Linked DNA regions of Homo sapiens. The protein of the gene in region 2 interacts with the protein of the main gene of each other region in a pairwise test. Each region holds a gene or a part of one and is shown on either strand. Other genes may lie near its edges. The genes, in order: CTSO, LMO3, CDYL2, BEND7, GRB10, ACTMAP and MAP3K9.

Region 1 (3,500 bases), on a different chromosome or scaffold from region 2:
GACCATTATTTACTGATTTCTCAACTTTGAATTTTGTGACAATTTATCTTAAGCTTATCTTTTATATATAAACATGCTTCAATTTCGTAATACTAACCAATTACATAGAATAAATAAAATTTCAGGGGGCTATCATTTGGTACCTTTCCAACCCTAGCGCTTCTACATATTTGTCTATGTACTTATGTGTTTATTGTGTGTCTGTATCAAAAACCTATAAGCAAAATGATGACTGCTTATATGTCTTATTCCTTATGGTGAGACACTCACTTAGCACATGGCTGACACACAATAGATCCTTGATAAGTGTTTGTTGTTGAATAAATAGATAAGTGACATTTTCCATATCATGCCCTTAATAACTTTAAGCTGTTTATTTTTAAGTAAATTATTGCTGGAAGTTGTCATAATCTTATTTTTTTTCCTTTTGTGCATACCTAGGAAGATTGCTAATCAACAAATTAATAAAGTTTTTGAGGTACTTTAAAATAATCTTGATGAAGCAAGGCTTTCAATATAACCTGGATATATAAATGTAAAAATAGAACTAGAATACAAGGTAATTCTGTATATGGCAAATGACAAATATAAGCCAGAGACTATTAACTGCTAAGGAATTCAGAGGATTCATTCATTCAATAAGTACTGCCTGGCCATCTTTGTGAGCTGGAGTAGTCAGGAAGGCACTGAAAATGTAGGATGTTAAGAATGCACAGGAGAGAATGTGGCAGCCATGAGAATGTGCCTCCCAGCCTTCTTTCTATAGGGAGTTTAGCTGCTGCTAGTTGAAATCTCCATGATCACACCAAGGGAAGCCACAGTTCTTACGGGCTGCACCTAGCTCATGACTTAGTGCTAAGGCTTGCTATTTGGGAGACAAATGGGACTCCCCTGACAGCTGGTTTTTGATTAATGACTCCCTGATGGCCTTGCCAAACCAAAGTTTCCTTGGACTGTGAGACAGCATGGAACTCTTCCCCAGTCTTCCTTCCTTTTTTCCTTCACTCAGGGTCAGAATTACATTGCAATCAGATAGCTCTACCTGGACCTCTCCCTATTAGTTCACAGGAATTGCTCCTGTGATTGATTAAAAAAAAAAAAAAAAAAAGCCTGGGAGCAGTGGCTCACACCTGTCATCCCAGCACTTTGGGAGGCTGAGGTCGGTGGATCATCTGAGGTCAGGAGTTCGAGACCAGCCTCGCCAACATGGTGAAAGCCTGTCTCTACTAAAAATACAAAAATTAGCCGGGCGTGGTGGTGGGCGCCTATAATCCCAGCTACTCAGGGGGCTGAGGCAGGAGAATCGCTTGAACCTGGAAGGCGGAGGTTGCAGTGAGCCGAGATCACAGCACTGCACTCCAGCCTGGACGACAGAGCGAGCCTCCAACTCAAAAAAATAAATAAATAAATAAAAAATAAGAAAAGAATGAGAAGACATGAATAACCAATTTACCAATATTAGGAATGAAAGAAGAGCCATGATTACAGATGCTTCAGGCATTAGAAGAATAATATTTTGACAACTTTATGACAATAAATTGGCAAACTGTACAAAATGGACAAACTTTTTGCAAGGCACAGATTGCCAAAGATGAAAGGAGAAATAGAAAACTTGAGCAGCCTTTTATCAGCTAAAGGCATTAAATTTGTAAGTGAAAACTGACTCACAAAGAAAACTTCAGGCCCAGGTGGCTTTTTGGTGAACTTTATACAATGAAGAAAGAAGTAATACCAATATTATCCTTTGAGAAAATCAAGAAGAAGGGAATACGCTGCAACTTAAATAAGACCAGTGTTACCCTGATTCTAAACCAGAAAAATGTATCTAAATAAAATAGAACTACATACCAGTATCCCTCATAAATACGCTGTAGACACAAAATCCTTAACAAAATAGCAAATCAAATCTAACAATATATGTTAAGGACAATATATTGTGACCAAGTGAAGTTTATTTAGAAATGCTAGGTTGGTTTAAAATTTCAAAATCAATCATCAGTACGATACACCATATTAACAGAACAAAAAAGGAATATACCACACACACACCACACCACACCAAATGCGCACACACACACATACGCACGCACATGAGGTATAGACTGGTACGCCCTTTCAAGATCCTTAAAATTACACAAATTGTTTAATTAAGAAAATCTAATTCTAGGAATGGATTTTAGACTCTTGAGTGTAGGCAATGCTGTACGTGTGGGTTCTACACGTGTGTCTGGGAGGGGAGGCAGTAGTTGAGCCACATACTCTATTTAGTTGGAGAGCTAATGCAAGTTTATCTCACTAGATCATTTGTGACATCTACGAGAGAAACAATATATTGCCACTCAAGTTGGCAAATGCCAGATGAAACAAACTTATACATCGTTGGCAGGGAGTTCCCATGTACTTCTCTTAATTTTTGTGTTGCCTTATAAGTGTCATTTCACCATCCAAAGTTTAGGTGTTCCGGTTGTGAAGTAGTTATAATAACACCAATTTAATAATGAAATAAATGAATGTATTATTTATTTATTTTAAATATTTATGTCCCTAATTTTCAATGATGATTCCAATAACAGTTACTTGGTTTTGGTCTTGTGCCATGTGTTTGAAAAGACAAATATCTCCACATATATTTTCTATTTGTTACCACTTGATACACTGTTCTTTATGTCAGCGGCACTAGTGTCTGCAGGACTTCTGAAAATGTTGCTGTCTTCCACTTGTTCAACCAGGAGCCAACTTCTAAAAGAATTCCATTTGCTATTCTGGTGTAATGACTCCTGTCATTTCACAGCTCTCCATAGCCCATGTCAGGGCTACTCAATCTTTATACAAATTGTTGACTTCCTGCCAACAGCAAAATACTCTAAACCACTAAGTGCTCTGCTTCGTCCTCTCCCTACCACTAATCTCTACCCACTTGTTTTGATTTTGCAAAACCATTAATAACATTAAAAGTACTTCCTTGGAGGCTTCTGAACACAGCGTAATAATAATAATTATTATTATTTTGAGGCGGATTCTCGCTCTGTCGCCCAGGCGAGTGCAGTGGCGTGATCTCAGCTCACTGCAAGCTCCGCCTCCCGGGTTCACCCCATTCTCCTGCCTCAGCCTCCCGAGTAGCTGGGACTACGGGCACCCGCCACAATGCCCGGCTAATTTTTTTTGTATTTTTTTTAGTAGAGATGAGGTTTCACCGTGTTAGCCAGGATGGTCTCAATCTCCTGACCTCGTGGTCTGCCCGCCTCAGCCTCTCAGAGTGCTGGGATCACAGGCATGAGCCACTGCGCCTGGCCTCTTTTTAACTTTGCAACAATTTGAAATGTCTTACCATTGCTGTGCAATTTTTGGCTATATAATCAACCTCTCTGAGCTTTATTTCCATCAACAAATGGAGTAATACTGATCTGGAAGAATGTAAGGATGAAATAAAATAATAATTGGAAAACACTTATTACAGAGACTGGCAAAATAAATGCTCAGTTAAAATACTCTCATCCTCT
Region 2 (3,500 bases):
ATTTGGTAAATTATAAAAATAACTAACTTTTGAGAACCAGTTGTGTTCCTGACATTTAACATAAATTATTTTATTGAAGTTTCAGACTCTGCAAGAGAGGTATTAGTGTTTCTATTTTGTAGGTGTGGGAATCAAATTCAGAGAGATTAAGTAACATACTCAAGATCACACAGTTAATATATCAGCTACTATATGGTGGTGCTGAAATCTGAATCTCTTCTCACTATAAATGTCACATTCTTTCTACTATTCTACAGGGTCTCATAAGGTCCATTTTTATATTGATAATACTGATAATATTTACAGCACAAAAACTTTTGAAGATACAACTTATATATCTGATGATAGAAGACATATGTGAAGCTCTGTCCATAAAGCTGAACTCAGAAAAGCTTAAAATATCTTAAAAGAATTTTTAATGGCAGGTAAAAAAGGCACAAAATATAAATTGAGTGAAAAAGTCCAAATATCAAACATTAGGATTCTCCCTTGTAACTTTAATTTGCTTAAATGTGAGTGTAATATTTATACAATGTCATTTGTCCTATAGACATAGGAACATGTATGGCTGGCTATATATCAAAATATTAAAATGTTTTCTTTTAGAAGAATGAGACATGGGACAATGTCTTGTTTTTATCATTTTCTATTTTCTAAATTTCCTACTATGAATATGTAATCTTTTATAAGTAGAAAAGCAATGACTTTATGATTCCATAATGGGAACTGCATGGTTACTGGCTGCTATTAGTTGATCAACATGACAAGTCAACAAAAGTATTCTAAATTTACTACTAAGACACCTTTAAAATGTATAAAATACATATATACATGCACATAAAGGTGTCTGTATGGATGTGGGAATGTTTGTGTTTGTATATCCTTATCCCTACCAAAAACATGTGCATTTGCCAATTTATTTTCGTCTAAATGTTACCCTAGACTGAATGAACTTACTTTGATTCTCAGTACTTGCTGGGAAGAGTCAAGACATTGTAAGATAACATCTTACATGACTGTCTGGGTAACTATTACATTATAAGGTACATTAGGCAACAATCTGAATATCTACATTTAGCAAGAAACACTATTGTGATACATGCCTTGTGGGAAAGTCAAGTTAATGGAATATTATTTGGTAAATTATAAAGATAACTAACTTTTGAGAACCTGTTGTGTTCCTGACATTTAATATAAATTAATTATTTCATTTAAGTTTCAAACTCTGCAAGAGAGGTGTTAGTGTTTCTATTTTATGGGTGTGGGAATCAAATTCAGAGAGATTAAGTAACATACTCAAGATCACACAGCTAATATATCAGCTAATATATGGTGGTGCTGAAATTTGAATCCCGTTCTCACTAGAAATGTCACATTCTTTCTACTATTCTACAGGGTCTCATAAGAAGATTCTGCATCAAATAGTACCTTTCAGAGTAAATTACAATAACTGAGAACTTGATGCAACTAATATTTATTGATTATATACTCTGCCAGGTGTTCTCACAGAAAGTCAGTGAATTCATTTTCATTAAAATCTATCAAGTGTTCTAATTTTTGAAATGTTGTATTTTTAATACGTACATTTTAATGTTCTAAAATCCTCTCCATTTATCATATAAAACAGGTGCCAGTAGTATATAGTTTTCACAGAAATAAAAAATATAACTTTCAATAAGAAAAAATGGAATTAAGTGATAATACTTTTCAGCTGAAAGAATTCTCTGAGATGAACTAATCCAGCTTCATATGTTACAAATGAAAAACCTGAGGTCCAGAGAGGGAAGGTGTTTGTTTGGTTTAAGATCGCACAGCTTATTAGTGGCAGAGCCCATATTAGAATTTAGGTTTCCAGGTTCCCTGTTCAACACTTTTTCAAATGCTCCTCTCCAATGATAATAATTGTTTAATTATTAGCTATATCTGGACTGATTCTCAAAGATATTTGAAGTAACTGCAAAAGTACATATAGGACAGGGTTAAAATTTAAGGTAAACAGCTAGATTGGGTGGGGGTGGTGGCTCATGCCTATAATCCCTGCACTTTGGGAGGTGGAGGTGGGAGGATTGCTTGAGGCCAGGAGTTTGAGACCAGCCTGGGTAACATAGTGAAACTCCATCATCTCTATAAAAAATGAAAAAAAAAAAAAATTAGCCAGGCATGGGAGTGCACACCTGTACTCCCAGCTACTCGGGAGGCTGAGGCAGGAGGATTGCTTGAGCACAGAAGTTGAGGCTGCATGAGCCATGTTAGTGCCACTGCGCTCTAGGCTGGGTGACAGAACCAGACCTTGTATTTAAAAAAGCAAAAACAAAAACATGAGGGATAAGGAATTTAAAATATAAAAAATAATAAGAATATAAAATACCTGCAACAAATTCCTGTATATTTGCTTCATTGCCAATTTATTTACTCACATAAGTAGTATAAAAAAGTAGATATTTAAAACTACTTTTAAAAAGACAGGAAAATAATAAAAGAAGGAATGAGTAAAAGAAGTCAGAGTTTACGGTAGTGTTTCCATTTTCTGTTACTTGCTCTTATATGATGCTTTTCTTTCAGGTAGAAGTAAGTCTTAAGACCTTTCTTCTCCTTAGTAGCTTGTCTCTGGCATGGGATTAAAGTTTACAGAACAGAAAAACGCTGAGATTGATTGCTTTAAATGTATGAATATAATTTCCACCTATTAAATAAATAGCCAGCACAGAGAGGTTAACCATTTCTTAGAGACCAAAAAGAGACCTGCTTACCTCTGATTACAAAGCTGACATGCAAAGCAGTCCAGGTGGTAAACATTGTCCTTGGCACGCATCACCATCTCAAAGGCAGGGATGAGCTTACTACAGGCAGCGCAGTTTCCCGTTACACCAAAGAGCCTAGAATAAGAAACATTTTTTTTTTTTTACAAACTCTTACAGAGAAATCTGAGATCGTGAAGAGAGATGATGTTAATATACTCTGTAAAGCTACAATACACAATGCTTTATGATGTACACAAGTGGATTTTATCCTAGGTGTATGCATAAATATTCTTCTGCAATATATTCTCCGTTGACCTTCCTTGATGAAAATCACATCTTGTTTGAGAAGAAAAGGAAAAGACAAATACATTAGGAAGCTTACGTAACTGCACATAAACAGAAGTCAATGGGGGTGAATTCATAGCAAAAATCTCTGGGTTAGAGTATATAGAAAATATAAAAGCAATATAACTTTGCTCTTAATGTTATATATTAAACATTTTAGTTGGGAAAGGAACCAACTAATGAATGATTCACTACTTTTTGACATTTAGTTACTAAAAGGTTTGCCATTATTATTAAAAATACATTTATGAAGAAGCCATTTAAATAGTCAAAAAACATAGAGGCGCATGCATGCACCTTATGGCTCTATACCATAGTTATAGCTATGATTATGTTATTCAAGTAGCACATTAAAGTAAATGAGGCTGTAAACTATATATAGCTAGACCAGAAATTGAAGGATAATATACTGTC
Region 3 (3,500 bases), on a different chromosome or scaffold from region 2:
TCCCTCATGCTTTACTCTTGGGATTGCCCCATATGAGCAGGGCAGGGAGCTGCTAACAGCTGGAATGCAGGGAACCCCGCCAGAGCCTTGCCCCTGCACCCAAAGGGCCACAAAATCTCCCCTCGCCACCCTTCCTGAGACAGGGAACTCCGCCACCGCCAGCAGCCGTCACAGCAACATCAAACACGGGTGTTTATGCCAAGCCCCATTTACACGAGCCCACTTCTCCCCGAGAGATGAATTTCTAAAACAAACAGCTTTTACATATGTTCACAGGCACAGTCACGTCAGCGTCAGGGATCCCGAGACGGAAACGTGAGTCAGTCTGGGGCAAAGATGCTAAGTAAATCCTGTTTGGGTGAAATTCCTCTCTCTGGAGAAAGAGGAGCCTCAACACGGATTGCTCAGATTTCTCAGCAAGAGTACCTAAAGACAGCAAGCTCTTGCAGGGGAGCCAGCTCTGCACGTTCTGGACTCCAAATCTACCATCGTCACACTGAAGTGTGTTGGCCTCATCACCCCAACCTTCTGTGAGCCCTTCTAACCATTCCCCCTGCATCCAAGCATCCCGGTCTCCACACGCACCCTGGTTTCATCAGGGAATCTGATGGCCCTGCCCTGTTGGGCAATGGTTGTCCACACTCCTGTAAGATTTCTGGACATTCCAAGGCTCGGGTCTCTGGCAGCCAAAGAGACAAATGCCACCAGGTAGACACACAGGTGTCTGAGAAGTGAGGGACTGCACATAACTGGCACAAGCAGCTAACCTGAAAGACTGATGCCATGAAGGACTCAGGTAAGGGGCAATGTGACCACACAGGAAATCTCATGTTTGGGAGTATGAACTACATGGGTCATCACCTCCTGTTTCCTTAATTTTGCCTACAGAGACTTTGGAAAAAGGAGGAATTCCATAACCTAACACAACATATGCAGGCTGTGTTAGAGTAAGAGGCTGCCAATCGAAAGAATTAGTGCAGGATGAGGTCAAGACAGCATTTAGGACCCACTACAGTCTGAACATTTATGTTCTGCCAAATTTCATATGAAGAAACCTAAGCCACAACACAGTCACAGCATTAAGAGGAGGGGCCTTTAGGAGGTAATTAAGTCATAAGAGCTCCATCCTTGTGGATGGGATTAGTGGCCCTTATAAAAGAGGCTGATGGGCGCTGCCTTGCCCCTTCTATCATGTGAGGACACAGAAGGCACCAGCTAAGAGGAACAGGCCCTCACCCGATGCAGCATCTGCTGGTGCCTTCATCATGGACTTCTAGCCTTCAGAATTGTGAGAAATTAGATTTCCATTTTTCATAAATTACCCATTCTAAGGTGTTTTGTGACAGCAGCCTGAACAGACTAAGACAGGACCTAATATAGGTCAATCATCCAACCTAGAGATAGCAGAAGGACAAGAGGCTCCAGCACAGGCACTGGCGTGGTGAACTCCAAGTCCACACTGTGTCTGAGAAGACGGCACGGACCCCAACCCAGACCCTACCTCTCTGGGCTACACTGCTGGGGGCATGATGAGGCTGCAAGCAAGGGCTCTGCACTGTGCCCTGGGAGGCACTGGCCCGCTGAGGACACGTGTCTTGGGTCCTGGGGGTGAGGACTTGAGCTGCCCTCAGGGAAGTGGGTCTAGAGGGGTTACCATGGCCTTGGGTGTCTTGAAATAAGAGTCTGGAACTTTGGACCCATTCCAGACCTTGGCTGGAGCATCAGAGGCTTAGCCTCCCCACATGCATGAGGGTCTGTAACCAACATGGGCCTACGACCGAGTCCACAAAGCTCTAGGTGAGAGAGATGAAGGGGGAATTGCTGGCTAGCTAAGAGACGGGGATGGAGGTGGGGGTCTTATGTATGTCCCTAGGCTACAGGCAGAGCTCCCCTTTCGCCATGGCCAGAGCCAAACCCAAGAGAAAGAAAAGCTACAAACCGAGCCCGTTCTCCGCCAGTGTAGCGTGATTCACGTCACATTCACCCATATCTTGCTCTCCAACATGATCATTCAAATCCAAGCCAGGCTGATGGGACCCATTTCCAAAGTGCCTCTCATCCTTCTCAGAGCCGGCGTCCCCATTTTCCATCCCGTTCTGAGACTTTTTCAGGGGCATTATTTGCAAACCACTGGGGGTAGTCCTGTAAGACACCGTCTTGGTGGCCCTGTCACCTCCTGAAGAGGGCTTGCCTGAATACCCTTTTTTTGGCTTGGCCAGGGGAGGGTTAATTCGCTTCCGTTTATGGGAGGTCCCCTTGCTCTTTCCAGGATCTGAAGGTCTGTGGGACAGTTTCTCAACCGACGGGCCTCGACTGTCACGCAGCAGCTTGGAGGTACTGGACTGCTTCCCTGACTTGATCCTCTTGTCCTTGGACATGTGCAACCCATTGAATTCATCAATAAACTCCTCACAGTGCAAGAGGTGGTGCTCCGGCTCCCACGTGTCCTCGGTGCTCCCGTAGCCTTTCCATCGGATAAGATACTCCCATTTTCCTTTCTTGTTCTTCCTCTTGTCTACAATCCTTTCAACCTGCGATACAAGATGAGAGGGTCAGAAAACAGAGAGAGAGGGAGGAAAAAACTCAGTTCGAGGCAACAAGAACACCATAAAGCCTTTGGGATAGAGGCATCTACCCTAGCCAGGGGGTGAGCCACGAGCCATTCAATGCCAGAAGCCAACACTGGCAGGAGGGTTCAAGAAGGCTGGTTTATTTTACGACATCACTGGATGGAACCTAAGGCACATGCAGCCATTTCCCATGATGACGCTAGATGACACGCCCAGCTGGTGGTAGCCACATGTCCATCCAGGCTTACTTTTATTTGAAATTGCCTTGCAAGGTTTCACAAGAGATCTTTATTCTTTTCATTGCACCAAAGTAGATGCAGGCTATTAAAGACCAATTTGGTGTGAGTTCTTCATCCTTATTTATAATAAGTAACATTTATTGAGCAATTATATGGGAGGTACTATGCCAATTTATCCTTACTTATAACAATACCAATGATCATTAACATTCACTGGGTGCTTATGAGCCAGACACTATACTAAATGCTGGGCATAGACTCTCCCATCTCATTTTCTCGTGGACAAAAACTCAATGAAGTAAATATTTTTCTATCCCCAATTTACAGTCAGAGAACGAGGGCTCAGAGAGACCAAGTAACTTAACCAAGTTCCAGAATGGTAAGGGCAGAACTGGGGTTTGAACCACTCTCACCTCAGACTTATTCTCTTACTCACTAGGCCATACTAACTCTCTTAACTGCAAAAATCTTCCACAGTGACCAAAAAGGACTTGAACTGAAAATGTCCAGCTCTCCCCACACAGCTCCCCCAGCTGCAACACAGAGGCACAGCTAGGAGGCAAAGAGATAGGTAACATTTGCTGAGTACCTACTATGCACCTCACATGTCCCTGTGGGTGTACACCACTATTATTTTTCCATTTGATAGATGAAGATATTGCATATAAGGCAACTCGCCTACCATGCACAG
Region 4 (3,500 bases), on a different chromosome or scaffold from region 2:
AATAATCCCAATGAAATACCAAAGTAGTCACAGTTATATGTAATATATTTCTTTTTCTTTTTTTTTTTTTTTTTTTTTTGAGACAGGGTCTCGCTCTGCTGCACAGGCTGGAGTGCACTGGTATGATCTTGGTTCACTGCAACCCCTGCCTCCCAGGCTCAAGCGCTTCTCATGCCTCAGCCCCCCAAGTAGCTGGGACTACATGCATGCGCTACCACGCCCGGCTAATTTTTGTATTTTTTAGTAGTGATGGGGTTTCGCCATGTTGGCCAGGCTGGTCTCGAACTCCTGGCCTCAAGCAATCCACTCATCTCGGCCTCCCAAAGCGTTAGGACTACAGGCACGAGCCACCACGCCTAGCCATATTTCTATTGAAAACATAAAATATCTATTTTCAAACTGATATGGGGGAATTTATGTTTGTAACTTTTACTAACTTCATACTTTTCAAAGTAAATCCACTGTCCCTACTGTATACTGGGAAACAGAACACTGTTCACCCAAAACTTACTGATGTGGGGTTTATTAACTTCATACATACCTAAGGGTATTTTATTTCTCTTATTGTCTCTTCCATGGTAGTAGAGTTAGAAAGGTCTTAAAGAATATTTCTAGTCACTATTCTAAGTACCATCTTTTATCATTTTTAGAAGACAAAACCAACCCTTTTCAGCTTGTTATAAATCATTTTCTAATTTTAAAGAGAACTGACTTTTTATTTTTATGGAGGAGTCTTTAAAGAGCTGTGTCCCTCTAACCTGGAGGCATGCCAGCATTGGAACTTTGATACTGGCTTATGTACTACTGAGAGGCAGAGAAGACACCCATACATTTCTGGGGTCCTTCGCTGTCTCATCAATGTCTCAGGATGGCTTTTCATGCCTCTGAACCACAAATTGTGTTTTTAAAAAAAGTCAAAACAGTTCTCTTTTTCTTGAAGGATATTGTGAAATGAAAATGAATGGAAAAAAATCCTTAACTTCTTAAGGAAACTGAAAATGCTTTCTTACCTTTTTCTTGTTCTCTTTGTGAAAACTATAGATCTGCACATCTCTACAGAGTTTATAGAACAAATATTATAGCATCCAGTGTGGCCGGATAGAAAACTAATATGACCACAAAAAGCATCAGGTTTTTCTCCTTAAGCTTTGAAAAAAAATTGTCATTTGATTCTTTTCTTAACAATTAGGAAACTTAAATTAAGAAAATTTTACTTTAAAGGAATACTTTCCATTGCTAATGAAGCATGTTACAAAATATGGATCACTGGGTTCAGTACTGACGTGGGATGCTGGGTTATCGGCCCCCCACCCCTGTCCGCCCCCGCCTTTATCTGGGACTCTTCTGATAATGAGTAAGGTGAAGGAGTAACCAAGAGGATATGTTAGTAACACACCATAGGACCAGGAAGCTTCTTTTAAAGACAGTGGGGAGCTCTTTCTGCCCTAATGTTCAGGTTTTTTTTGTGACAATAATATCCATACATGGGCACAAAATGATCGCTTTAACCTCTTAAAGGGCTAAAATCTCTACCAGGAAATCTTCACTTATAACATAGAACCCCCTGTCTTTCCTAATTCTCAATTCTGTTTTTTAATAGTCTTCAACTCTTTCCTTTGTGTCTCCCTGTCTTTTAAAGTAACTCAGCAAAGGCAGGTAATTATGGGAGGGTTTAATAAATTGAACTCAACACACTGAATATTTAGAAATAGAACAGTACAAACCCCCATGAGAGCCTTCTGAATGTTTGTTGACAACCATACCATTGGAGCTCGTGGTAGGGTGGGGCTGGCTTTGGAAGGTTCTAGAACGGGTGCCATACTGCCCTGAGAACTGTCCACTCTGGGGCGGTAGCTCATTCCACACACCACGTGAAGACGGGTGGAGGCTTTGCGGGGCCTCAGCAGAGGAGTTCAAACGTGGAGGCCAGACTAAATCCAGGTCCTGGGGCTCTTCTTTTAGTTTCTCTCCTTCTTTGCCAACTCGCTGATAGATCCGCCCAGTGCTGTCGTTCAGCAATCTTCTCATCCCTGTAATTTGCTTTTTTATTTCCATGCTTTCATCTCCTAATGGAAACAGGGCCAAAGTTAGCACTCTAAATTAGTGAAAGAGAAAACAGTTCACTAACCAAAAAGAAGAGAAAGAAAAACAACCCTTCTTTGGAAATGGGAAAGATGACTGACTCTATGAACTTAATCTGTAAAACGCAAAGGCAGGAAAACTGACTACGGTCTGAAAAAACCCATCCTATTCCTGGTGCCTCTCATTTTAATCTCTTTCTGCAAGTCGCTTATGATGAAAGAGGTTTCTTGAGAGTGTGTCATCAGGAACAAACATGACATTCCCTCTTTGGAAGCATTTTCTGAATGAGTAGGTGATGAGGAAACAGGCTGAGACAGAAGGTCAAGGATAGAACTGGACCGCGGAACCCCTCTGCTCTGATGGGCCACAGCCACCCGTGAGGAATGGGCAGGTCACTAAAGCGCTCTGCTCACTGTCTGTCAGCTTCACCAGGCGGGGCAAGGACAAGGAAGAAAGCCTGGACTGGCAGGGACGCAGGGCTTCACTACTGACACAATGTCCTTCAGGATGACTGGCAGGGATGCAGGGCTTCACTGCTGACACAATGTCCTCCAGGATGACACGCTGCCGCTGGAGACATCACCTTCAGAGAGGACGGCCGAGGAGACAGAGAGGCGCCGAGTGTGGCAGCATGGCAAGCGAGGGGGTTTTGTCTTTCTGGCACTCTGACTCCCATCACATCAGCCTGGTGATGACCGAGGGGTCCCTGCCACTCGAGGTCACTGGCGGTACCAGCACTGGAAGGGCGGAAGTGCAACCTCCCCACCGTGCCCTCCTCCCATGCCAAACGCACTGCCACCTCCCCTGCAGCGTAACTGTGTGCGAAAGGTCACAGGCCACTTTGAAATCCCACTTCACCTACACTGACTTCTTTTTTTAAGATTTTTCTCCCGTCTCAGGACATTTTTTTAAAATGAAAGAACTTCTATACTGCACTGGGAGTACTTAATAAATATTAAAGATGTCTGTAATATTGCACAGATAGAAAATCTTTTTGGCCGGGCACAGTGGCTCACGCCTGTAATCCCAGCACTTTGGGAGGCCGAGGCGGGTAGATCACCTGAGGTCGGGAGTTCGAGACCAGCCTGACCAACATGGAGAAACCCTGTCTCTACTGAAAATACAAAATTAGCCAGGCGTGGTGGCACATGCCTGTAATCCCAGCTACTCACAAGGCTGAGCCAGGAGAACCCGGCTCACCCAGGAGGTAGAAGTTGTGGTGAGCCAAGATGGCACCATTGCATTCCAGCCTAGGCAACAAGAGTGAAACTCCATCTCAAAAAAAAAAAAAAAAAAAAAGAAAAAGAAAATATTTTCTATCAATAATAATATCAGAGGATGCTGATATCTGTTAGGAGCTATTTCAAACACACTATCTTCTTAAACTGTGCATCAGCCAGTATCTTCATAAAGATGAA
Region 5 (3,500 bases), on a different chromosome or scaffold from region 2:
TTTCTTGCCAAAGGCTGAGAGAGCCAGATAATATTTTCATGGTCTTATTTTAGAATGGGTAGCTCTGTAAACAACCTCAGTGACAAAACCCACAGACAGCTTGTCTGGATCCTTATTTGAAGCAGAAGGTCACCAGCGAGGTAGACATCCCAGATGCACTTTAGACATGTGACAAAGTGCACAAGCCCAGCCAGTGCTGGCTCCCAGATGAGGGACACTTACCTCACCTTCTAAGTTTTGATAGTGCCATAATGCAGCCTGCTCCGGGGGCCTGAGGTCAGAACGGGACCCACACTTGGGAGCCAGCGGGTATTGGAAAAAGGTCTCTCTCTCAAGAGGACAGACCTTGCATGGCACAGGACAGGCAGATTTGCAGAGAAAGGGATGGCTGGCCTGTCTTGCTTGAGAACAGCAAAGGTAGGGAAGTGAGAGCAAGTAGGGAGAAGAGATGATTCAAGTAGAAGGGCAAAATGACTTCTAAATATGCATTTAGCAGAAGGAAAGTCAAAGTCCCGGGAAGCCAATCAGCACAGTGGCTGCAATCACAGGCTCCGATTCTGAGGCCGGGTCACACTCAGCCGCACCATCAGGTCTCAGCCACACTCAGCTCAGCTGCTTACAGGGGCCTCCCTTCCCTCAACTGTGGAACAGAGGGAACATGCGTACTTAATTCATACGGGATGGCATGAGGAGTAAATGAACATATAAATAAACAAAAAATAAACATATCCACCACTTACGACAAGGCCTGGCACACAGAAATCCCTCACTCCATAAACATCAGATGGCGCAGTTGTTCTAATGATCACCTCCACCCCTAGGGGTCTTCCTCCAGAGGCTGCAGCCCATCCTGGCTCACAGCCCTGCCAACCGGTGGGGAGGAACTTTCAACCCCTTTCTCTGCCAGTTTCTCTGCTAAGCTGACTTGTTGGCTGTTTGACCTTGGACACATTACTGAAATGCTCTGTGCCTCAGTTTCCTCATATGGGGACAATGGTTGTGTCCTATCTACTTCATGGATCTACTTTAAGTAGAAACTACAAGTTCAAAAAGGAGGTTATTGCCCTGCGGGTCCAATGGAAACTCTTCTGCTTTCGGCAGATCATATTCAAAGTCAGGACTACAAGACAGAAACTCTTCAACTCCTGTGTACTGACATCCAGGTGCCCGGGTGAGCCCAGCATTTTCACACCTATTATTGAGCCAGTGGTGAAACTTTTTCAAAGAACTAAGATTCATCTTTAAACATCAAATCATTGTTATTATTTGCCATTTTTTATGAGACTTTTTCTAAAATATAAAGATAAAACAGAGTTTTGATCAATAATGAAAAGAGGTTTAATTGGTTCATGGTTCTGCAGCCTGTACAAGAATCATGGTGCGGGCATGTGCTCGGCTTCTGATGAGGACTTAGGAGCTTACAATCATGCCAGAAGGCAAAGCAGGAACTGGCGTCTCGCACAGCAGGAGTGGGAGCAAGGGGAGGAGATGACACGCACTTTTAAACAACCAGATCTCGTGAGAACTTACTATTGTGAGGACAGCACCAAGCCATGAGGAATCTACCCCTAAGATCCAATCACCTCCCACCAGGCCCTGCCTCCAAAATTGGGGATTACAATTCCACATGGGATTTGGAGGGGACAACATCCAAACTGTATCGGCCTCATAGGACAACAAGTACTGTGACAACAAGAAAAGAACTGAGAGAGAAGATCCCAGGACTTCCCGCCCTTCTTCCCAAAGTAATAATCTGGCACATCTGTGCAGATCCCAATAATCTGGCATATCCCTCAGCCTGGGCTCCAGCCAGGGGCACACTCACCTGCTTTGCGGCGGCCTGGCTCGGAGGTAAAGAACCCGGCGTGAGCACAGGGGGGCTCCCAGGGCCACAGAGTTCAGGAAAAGGATTGGGGATGGCCGGCAGAGATGAGGTTCTAAACTGCTGGTCTTCCTCCTGAAGGCGCCTGGAAGGCAGGGATAAGTGCCTGTTAAAAGCTGCCATTCCCCACATGACCCAGCCTTACCACTGTGGTGATACACCCAGAAAGCAGGACACAGGGCTTCTAGGAGTCACTGGCATGCCCACGTTCACAGTGGCATCCTTCACAAAAGCCAAAAAGTAGAGGCATCCCAAGGGTCTGCAGATGGATGAATGGATGAACAATATGTGGCATATCCATACCATGGAACACTACTCAGCCATGAAAAAGGAAGCACATTCTGACACAGGCTACGACACGGATGAACCCTGAAGACATTATGCAGAGTCAAACACACCAGTCACAAAACCAGAGACACTGTGTGATTTCACCCAGTGAGGTAGGTAGTGTATTCAAACCCATAGAAAATAGAAGGGTGGCTGCCAGGGGACTAAGGGGAGGGCAATGGGGAATCGCTGTTTATTGGGGACAGAGTTTCAGTTTCATAAGATGAGAAAGTTCTGGAGATTGTACAACCATTGTGAGTGTGCATTAATACTACCGAACTGTACCCTGAAAAAAACAGTTAATATGGTAAATTTTATGTTACATGTATTTTACTAAAACGAAAACTTTAAAAAAATTACAAGTTGTCATTCTCAGACCCAAAGGGTATTGGGTATCAATTCTCTTCTTCATTAGGCATCGGGGGCGGGGGGCGGGGTGCCGAAGTTTTGTTGTCCTGGGTGCGTGCTCATCTCAGGCAGCATTCAGTGCCTGACATGGCATCAGCTCCAAATACCTCATCCGTTTGATCAGTGAATACCTGATGTGTGAAAGTTTTCTGAATATGAGCATTTTCATGAGAACCAAGTGTTTTTCAATGTCCTTGAAATGAGCATTAATCTAATCAAATGAAAATACAAGAAAAGGCTGTGTGTTCTCATCTGAATTATGCAATGGATGGTTACTTATATAAAAAGGTTGTTGACACTGAATTAACTGGAAATTATAGCTTCATGTATCTGTCCTCGCAAAGCCTGTGTCCACATTAGAAACACACCTTGGAAACACACGCTGAATCCACACACCACCTCTACTTTCCTGGCACATCTCCAGGGGCATCTGTTCCCTCCTCCGAAAAATGCACAACCCACTTGTCACACAACTATGCAACACACACACAGTATGACGAATCAGAAGCAACTGTGAACAGCAGAGAAATCAAGTTCAAAGTCAAAGCGAATGTCAAGTGTCTGGCACCTCCCCTCTGTAGAGTAACTTCTGGCCCACACCTCCAGGGCACTCCTGGACACACAGCCTCCTCCACCCTTCCTGAGGCCACGCGGCCCTGTCTGCAGCCTCCTACCTTCAAGGAGAGGGGAGCAAACCTCACATTATCTTCACTCGGCATTTCCAATCCCTCCCCATGTTTAAACATACCTCAGAAACCCCCATCATAGGCTGTGTCCTCAAGTAATTTTTTTGACAATTTTTACGATTTCACAAAATCAACAATCCGTTAGCTTTCCCAGGAGATTTGCCACTACAGAAACACATTTTGTGACTGTATTACTT
Region 6 (3,500 bases), on a different chromosome or scaffold from region 2:
CCTGCAGGGAAAAGCGCTGGGTGTGTGTCAGAGGCGCAGGGTGGGTGGGGCTGCCAGCCAGGACCCTGGCCTGCAGCCTGATCCAAACCAAAGACTGTAGAACCCTGGGGTGTGGCTAACGGCCCCTCCAGCACCCATAGCCAGGTCTTCCTGGCCCTTGAGGCTGGGCTGGCGGACAGGCACCTACCTCTTCCTTAAGCTGAAGCTCCCACACTGTCTTCCAGGGCTGAGGAGATGCTCTCCTTTTCTACTGACCATCTTGATACTTATTTATACGAGAGGCAGTTGCTGGACGGGGTAGTACTGGGAAGCAGGAGGCAGAATGGCTCTGCTGAGCCTCCTACCCATGACAACACCCCAATAAACAGAACATTCAGAGCCAATGTCGTAGAGCTTTTTATTTTGCATCTGGAGTGTATTTGGACACGTGGGCTGGGTGGGGTAACAGGATAATGAGCAGTTTGGGAAAGAGGCAGGCTCCAAGCAGGCTGGTTCACTCACTTGGCAGTCACTGGGCGGCTATTCTTGTGCCTGGATGTGTTACAATGCAGGGGACACAGTGGTGAGCAAGGCTGCTCCAAGCCCTGGCTGGGATGGGGGATGCACAGACAGGCTGATCAGGGCTGGGATGGTGGACACGCATCCTCTTTACCCTGATCACTGGTTAGAAATACTGCACTGTGGCCGGGCTCAGTGGCTCACACCTGTAATCCCAGCACTTTGGGAGGCCGAGGCGGGTGGATTACTCAAGGTCAGGAGTTCGAGACCAGCCTGGCCAACATGGCAAAGCCCCGTCTCTACTAAAAATACAAAAAATTAGCCAGGCATGGTGGTGCATGCCTGTAATCCCAGTTACTTGGGGGGCTGAGGCAGGAGAATCACTTGAACCTGGGAAGTGGAGGCTGGAGTGAGCTGAGATCACGCCACCGCACTCCAGCCTGGACGACAGAACGAGACTCCATCTAAAAAAAAAAAAAGCAACAGTGCTCTGTAGTTTCCCTAAATGAGATGGGCTCAGTTAGGGACAGAGAAGTGATCCAGACAGGCCTGTTCCTCCTTCAGAGTGGAGGGGTCAGGTATTCATGAAGCTAGTAATCACACACACTCACTAGAAGTTTGTATAAGTGGACAGGAAAGTTTGTGGTCAGCACCATAATGTTCAGGGAGCCAGGAGACAGCCTGGCTGAGATACTGACTACCTAGCTTGAATCCTGACCTTGCCATGTGCTAGTCATGTGACCTCAGGCCAGTGATTCCACTTCTCCAGGCCTCAGTCTTGCCATCTGTCAAATCGGGTCCATCTAGCACCCCCCTTACAGGGTTGCCAGATCTGCTAACACAGGTAGAGGGGCTGGCACAGGTAACTGCTCCCAGATGGGCTTTAAAACTGTGAAGACATGAGGTGGGGGAGGGGTGTCTTGACTGGGGCTGCAGGACTCTTCCCTGAGGTAGTGATACCTGAGCCCCAATGGAAAAGTTAAGGAGTGATCCGCAGCAGAGGGCTGGGGGTGGGACTCAATGATCCGGGGATTTGAACAACACTTCAGGGATCTAAAAGGCCAGTATGACTAGTAGGTGGCAAGCATGAGGAAGACCTTGGGCTAAGGAGGGGTGAGCTGAGGCTGACGCAGTTCAGTGTCCCTGTCCTGTGAGAAGCAGAGGGCCCAGGCAGGAGGTTCCTCAAATGTCTAGTGAGATGACAGAGGCGGCCCCTAGTGAGAAACAGACGATGCGACATTCAGATGGAATAGGCAGGCCGCAGGGTCCGGGCTGTTGTCAATCTCTCCCTAGAGGGACCAGCTGGTGCTCAATACTGCAGGGGGTGGCCCTGATGAAGGAGGACTGGAGACCCCTGAGACCTAGCTTCAATCTTGTCGCCATCACACAGTGGGAGAAGTGTAGGCACACTTCAAATGGTTACCGAGCTAGGCTGCAGCCTGAGACCGCAGCCGCAGCTAATGGCTGCAGTCCTGTGGTGTGAGGAGCAGGGCCTGGCCACAGAGGCCAGCCCGTACCCCACCCACGGGCACCACGTACACCCGGCCGTCAGTGGCCCGTGAGGGCGAGAAGTCCGTCAGCTGCAGGTTGCTCTCCCGGACCTGGTCGTAGTCCCACAGCTGATAGTGCCAACTCTTGCCCTGCTTGGACAGCAGGTAGACAGCTCCCGGGGAGCCCTCCTCTGGCAGGGATGGTGGTTGGCAGGGCGTGCCCAGCACTGGGTGGAACAGGCCCGGCAGCTCAGGGTCCTCAGTGTAGCCGAGACTGGGCACAGCCCGAACACCCAGCAGGACCCCTGGGGGAGAGGAGAAGGTGGTGAGTGGCAGTGACTGAGCCAGGACCAGGTGCTGGGGCTCACTAAGTTCCGCCCTCTCCCGGCCCTCCAGGGTGGGTGCAGCTGCCATTCCTAGGTTACGGTGACGTTAGTGGTGGCCAGTGGGTTGGGATTTGGACCCACCGTGGCACCCGGCTCCAAAGCTGTAGGTGTTTTAAGTCTTGCCTCATCTGGCCTGAGCACAGGGGAGGTGGGGAGGCAGCATGAGATGAAGCAAATGCCGTCACCCGGTCATCCTCAGCTCTTTAGGGAAGAGGCTCCAAGAGGAGCTGTCAAGACCACAAAGCCATGAAGAAGCTGAGCGGAGCCTCCCCCGGACCTCCTGACGCGGACCAACCTGGCCTTCTTTCTTTCAGGCAGGGGGAATGATGAAAACGGTGCTGGTAATACTTACAGAGACATGTCACACGCCAAGCCCTGTTCTATTTTTTTTTTTTTTTTGAGATGGAGTCTTGCTCTGTCACCCAGGTTGGAGTGCAGTGGCACGATCTCAGCTCACTGCAACCTCCGCCTCCCAGGTCCAAGCAATTTTCCTGCTTCAGCCTCCCAAGTAGCTAGGATTTCAGGCATACACCACCACGCCTGGCTAATTTTTGTATTTTTAGTAGAGACAGGGTATCACCATGTTGGCCAGGCTGGTCTCAAACTCCTGACCTCAAGCGATCCACCCACCTTGGCCTCCCGAAGTGCTGGGATTACAGGCGTGAGCCACCGCGCCTGGCCAAGCCTTGTTCTAAGAGTGCTGAGTGCTCTGCCTACAAGGCAGCCTTATGAGGTGGGTACTGTTACCCCCAATTTCCAGATGGGGAAAGGAGCTGTCCAGAGAGGTGATGATACCTGCCCAGAGTCACAGAGCCTAGAAGAGGCTGTGCCAGGCCTGGAGCCCAGACGGTCTGATCCTGAAATCTGTGCTCTGAGCTTCTGTTTGTAGAAGCTCCAACTGGCAGACACCTGGGGCCCAGCCTGCCCGGTGCTAATGCTAAGTGCCCAGCCTGGCTGGGGAGGCACCAGCACAAGGGGTGAGAATGTCAGGAGGATTAATGGAGGCCGGGGAGACCCAGGTTGAGGGGTGCAGACAAAGGAGGGGGAACCCACCTGCACTCACCGCCCAGTGTGCCTTGTGGCCCTTCCTCTGACACGGCTCATGGTTGAAGTCCTCGTCGTAGCT
Region 7 (3,500 bases), on a different chromosome or scaffold from region 2:
CCCCAGCTAATTTGGGAAACAGTCTCACACTGGATGGCTCGAAGGCGAGGAATGATGGTGGGGCTTGCAGGAGGACTGGAGCGGCTGTTGATAAGACTCTTCCTTTTATCCATGGTAGGGGAGGCCTGCACCGTGAACTTGTGCTGGAAATCTGCTTGGGGAAAGACAAACACGTGTATGCATTAACATTTCCCATAATTAAATTCATATAAGAAATATGACATTCCTCAGCATCCTTGAGGGACAGGCCCCAGTTTCCTGAAAAGCTCTTTGTTCACCTGGGAAATGTTCTCTTTTAGAATCATCTCTTTTTCCCAAGGGACATGGGGAGATGAACGTATAAAAAGATGGAAAATTCACTGTGCAAGTGAACTTCATCTGTGAGCTTCATAAAGCTGTCTATATAATGAATATAGTTCAAGCAGTTATGTATTAAGAATAGCTGTTTAGCTCATGAGATGTTGTTGATTATTCTAGGAAATTTAACTTAAAATTATTGGTTTCACATAATCTATTATCAGATAGATTTGGTCCTCTTTTCTCAGGGACTGAAGCAGGGACACTGATTCTTCTCACTAAGTGCAGGCACAGCAGGGTATCAATGACTAGCCCTTGTGGGAACCTAGGGCAGTGAGGGAGATGGAGCAAATGGCTCCAATTCGGACACATTCCAAAGGAAGTTACAGTACAGCATAAAGAATGTAAAACTTACAGGTCTGAATTTCTGAGTTTCAGTCTCCTCATCTATCAAAGAGGTAAAATAAACAGCTGCTGCTTGCACCTATGTCTCCCCATTAGACTGTGATCTCCCTGCAGGTGGGAACTATAGCTTTTCTATCTGCATCCTGACATGCAACAATATGCTGACACATGCTAGATGCTCAAAGGGTGCTTAAAGAGTCCATGCTGTCTGAAAAGGAAAAACAAATGTGCAGCAAGGGGACCAGCAAACACGGCTCATAAACATATTCACTCAACTGCATGGAATGAGTTCCCTTATCTGTACTTAATTAAGCCACCATTTTAGTGCTTAACATCATCTACTCCTGCCCCATTAGACCATTCTTTCTTTGTTCCTTACACTTTTTTTTTTTGAGATGGAGTTTCACTCTTGTTGCCTAGGCTGGAGTACAAGGGCGCAATCTCCGCTTACTGCAACCTCCGCCTCCCAGGTTCAAGCAATTCTCCTGCCTCAGCCTCTTGAGTAGCTGGGATTACAGGCATGTACCACCATGCCCGGCTAATTTTGTATTTTTAATAGAGACGGGGTATCTGCATGTTGGTCAGGCTGGTCTCGAACTCCTGACCTCAGATGATCCACCCGCCTCGGCCTCCCAAAGTGCTGGGATTATAGGCATGAGCCATTGCACCTGGCCTGTTCCTTACACTTCTAATAAGCCTGCTTTCTAGGGCCTCATAGACTTAGAACACAGTGAATATCTTTATCTACATCAACACACATTTTAGCATTCGGCTCCCTCCATGGATATATTACACACCACAAAGATTCTAATTAATAGTTTCATATTTCTTTATATTTTCCCCAAGGCTGCAGTACAACAAATGCATGTTTATTCAACTGATGTGTGTGTCTGAAAGGTCACATGTAAATCTTATCATGTAAATTCTCATACATTAAACCCAGTCTCAACTGCACTCAGGGGACTAATTAAAAAAACGTCAGCCAGGAGTGGTGGCTCACAACTGTAATCCCAGCACTTTGGGAGGCCAAGGTGGGTGGATCACTTGAGGGTGAAACCCTGTCTCTACTAAAAATACAAAAATCAGCTGGGCGTGGTGGCATGCGCCTGTAATCCCAGCTGCTCGGGGGCCTGGGGCAGCAGAATCACTTGAACCGGGGAGGTGGAGGTTGCAGTGAGCCAAGATCTTGTCATTGCACTCCAGCCTGGGCAACAAAAGCAAAACTCTGTCTCAAAAAAAAGAAACCTTGAGACAAGTTATTTTGCAGAGCCAAAACTTCTCGTGTCTCACACATGCACACCCTGGAATGTTTTCCCCCAACTTCATGCTTCCTTCTCCAGGTTTGCCTAAAGTGAGATGTGCCCCTGTGAGCCACCAGGCTTCTAGCAGCCTGGACCTTGCCGGGTTGTCCTCACTTCATATTCTGTGTTCACTCACATGCAACAATTTCCCTGGAGTAGGGTAGATTTTCAACATGCCAGTCTTTCCAGTGAACAGAATGGCCCATTTAAAACAGGCTGGAGTTTGAGCCCCAGGGTGTCATGTTTCCAAGCTCAGTCCCGGACTCCCTCAAACCCTCTGCCACACGAGTTCTTTGCCCTGCTCCCACTTCCCAGCCAGTCCCCGGCCACTGACCAGAAGGGAGGCTGATGCGGTTGCCATCCTTGAGCTTCAGCCGGCTCTTCCTGAACTTGCCCTTGCGTTTCTTCACCCGGGGCTTCTCCTGGCACAGCTGGTGGATGATGATGTTGAGCTCCCGTTCCAGGATGTCAATCTCCCGCTCGGCCAGCTCCTGCTCCCGACGCCGCAGCAGTTCCTCCTGGTTCTTCTGCTGCAGTGCAGCCCGCGTCAGCTCCTCCTCCCAGGTGCGAAGTTCCTGCAGGATGGGCAGAACCATCAGAGAAAAGACTGGGGTGCTCAGTGCAGAGGGGCTCTGGGGTGAGGCCTGAGAGCTCCCAGAGGGCTTATGGTGACCTGGAGAGCTCTCCTATGATGCTCAGTGAAGAGAGAGGACTCGATAGCTGGTAAATGAACATTAGACCACCTTGAATGGTGGGGAAAGGAAGGCTCAGAACAGCCATACTGACGGGACAGTCAGAGAAGATAAAGCCATAGGTCAAGCCCTAGAAATGGGGGCTAAGAGTTTCTAGTCGCTCCTTCCTTCTTCATTAAAATTGCCTGTGATTTATATATATTTATATATATATATATATATATATATAGGTTTGAATAGAAAATATAATCATGTATTTATTTACAGACTTGGTTGTACTTTACTTTCTATTTTTTGAGACAGCAACTCATTCTGTCACCCACGTTGGAGTGCAGCGGTGCGATCTCAGCCCACTGCAACCTCTGCATCCCTGATTCAAGTGATTTTCATGTCTCAGCCACCGGAGTAGCTGAGATTATAGGCATGTGCCACCAAACCTAGCTAATTTTTTTGTATTTTAGTAGAGATTAGGTTTTACCATGTTGGCCAGGCTGGTCTCAAACTCCTGGCATCAAGTGATCCATCGGCCTCAGCCTCTCAAAGTGCTAGGATAACAGGCGTGAGTCACTGCGACAAGCCAAATTTTTTCTATTATATAAAAGATGTTTTTTCACCAAATGCAATGGCAACAAAAGCCAAAATTAACAAATGGGATCTAATTAAACTAAAGAGCTTCTGCACAGCAAAAGAAACTATCATCAGAGTGAATAGGCAACCTACAGAATGGGAGAAAACTTTGCAATCTATCCATCTGACAAAGGGCTAATATCCAGAATCTACAAAGAACTTAAACAAATTTACAAGA

Evidence for each region.
Region 1: the proteins of LMO3 (region 2) and CTSO interact in binary tests that used the Homo sapiens proteins (3 or more experiments, as listed by UniProt).
Region 3: the proteins of LMO3 (region 2) and CDYL2 interact in binary tests that used the Homo sapiens proteins (3 or more experiments, as listed by UniProt).
Region 4: the proteins of LMO3 (region 2) and BEND7 interact in binary tests that used the Homo sapiens proteins (3 or more experiments, as listed by UniProt).
Region 5: the proteins of LMO3 (region 2) and GRB10 interact in binary tests that used the Homo sapiens proteins (3 or more experiments, as listed by UniProt).
Region 6: the proteins of LMO3 (region 2) and ACTMAP interact in binary tests that used the Homo sapiens proteins (3 or more experiments, as listed by UniProt).
Region 7: the proteins of LMO3 (region 2) and MAP3K9 interact in binary tests that used the Homo sapiens proteins (3 or more experiments, as listed by UniProt).

The regions. Positions count from the first base shown.
Region 1 is NC_000004.12:155,943,867-155,947,366, forward strand, and holds part of CTSO (cathepsin O preproprotein), read right to left. Parts: intron 1-3,500. UniProt on the Homo sapiens protein: Proteolytic enzyme possibly involved in normal cellular protein degradation and turnover.
Region 2 is NC_000012.12:16,557,663-16,561,162, forward strand, and holds part of LMO3 (LIM domain only protein 3), read right to left. Parts: intron 2,877-3,500; coding exon 2,751-2,876; intron 1-2,750.
Region 3 is NC_000016.10:80,682,599-80,686,098, forward strand, and holds part of CDYL2 (chromodomain Y-like protein 2), read right to left. Parts: intron 2,532-3,500; coding exon 1,940-2,531; intron 1-1,939.
Region 4 is NC_000010.11:13,498,015-13,501,514, forward strand, and holds part of BEND7 (BEN domain-containing protein 7), read right to left. Parts: intron 2,666-3,500; exon of another isoform or gene 2,496-2,665; intron 2,067-2,495; coding exon 1,764-2,066; coding exon of another isoform or gene 1,725-1,763; intron 1-1,724.
Region 5 is NC_000007.14:50,667,897-50,671,396, forward strand, and holds part of GRB10 (growth factor receptor-bound protein 10), read right to left. Parts: intron 1,968-3,500; coding exon 1,826-1,967; intron 1-1,825.
Region 6 is NC_000019.10:40,740,478-40,743,977, forward strand, and holds the end of ACTMAP (actin maturation protease), read right to left. Parts: coding exon of another isoform or gene 3,499-3,500; coding exon 3,428-3,498; intron 2,294-3,427; coding exon 1,956-2,293; 3' UTR 1,713-1,955; coding exon of another isoform or gene 1,596-1,712; 3' UTR 1,388-1,595; coding exon of another isoform or gene 1,228-1,387; 3' UTR 963-1,227; coding exon of another isoform or gene 743-962; 3' UTR 384-742; downstream 1-383. UniProt on the Homo sapiens protein: Actin maturation protease that specifically mediates the cleavage of immature acetylated N-terminal actin, thereby contributing to actin maturation.
Region 7 is NC_000014.9:70,740,014-70,743,513, forward strand, and holds part of MAP3K9 (mitogen-activated protein kinase kinase kinase 9), read right to left. Parts: intron 2,579-3,500; coding exon 2,338-2,578; intron 152-2,337; coding exon 29-151; coding exon of another isoform or gene 1-28. UniProt on the Homo sapiens protein: Serine/threonine kinase which acts as an essential component of the MAP kinase signal transduction pathway. Plays an important role in the cascades of cellular responses evoked by changes in the environment.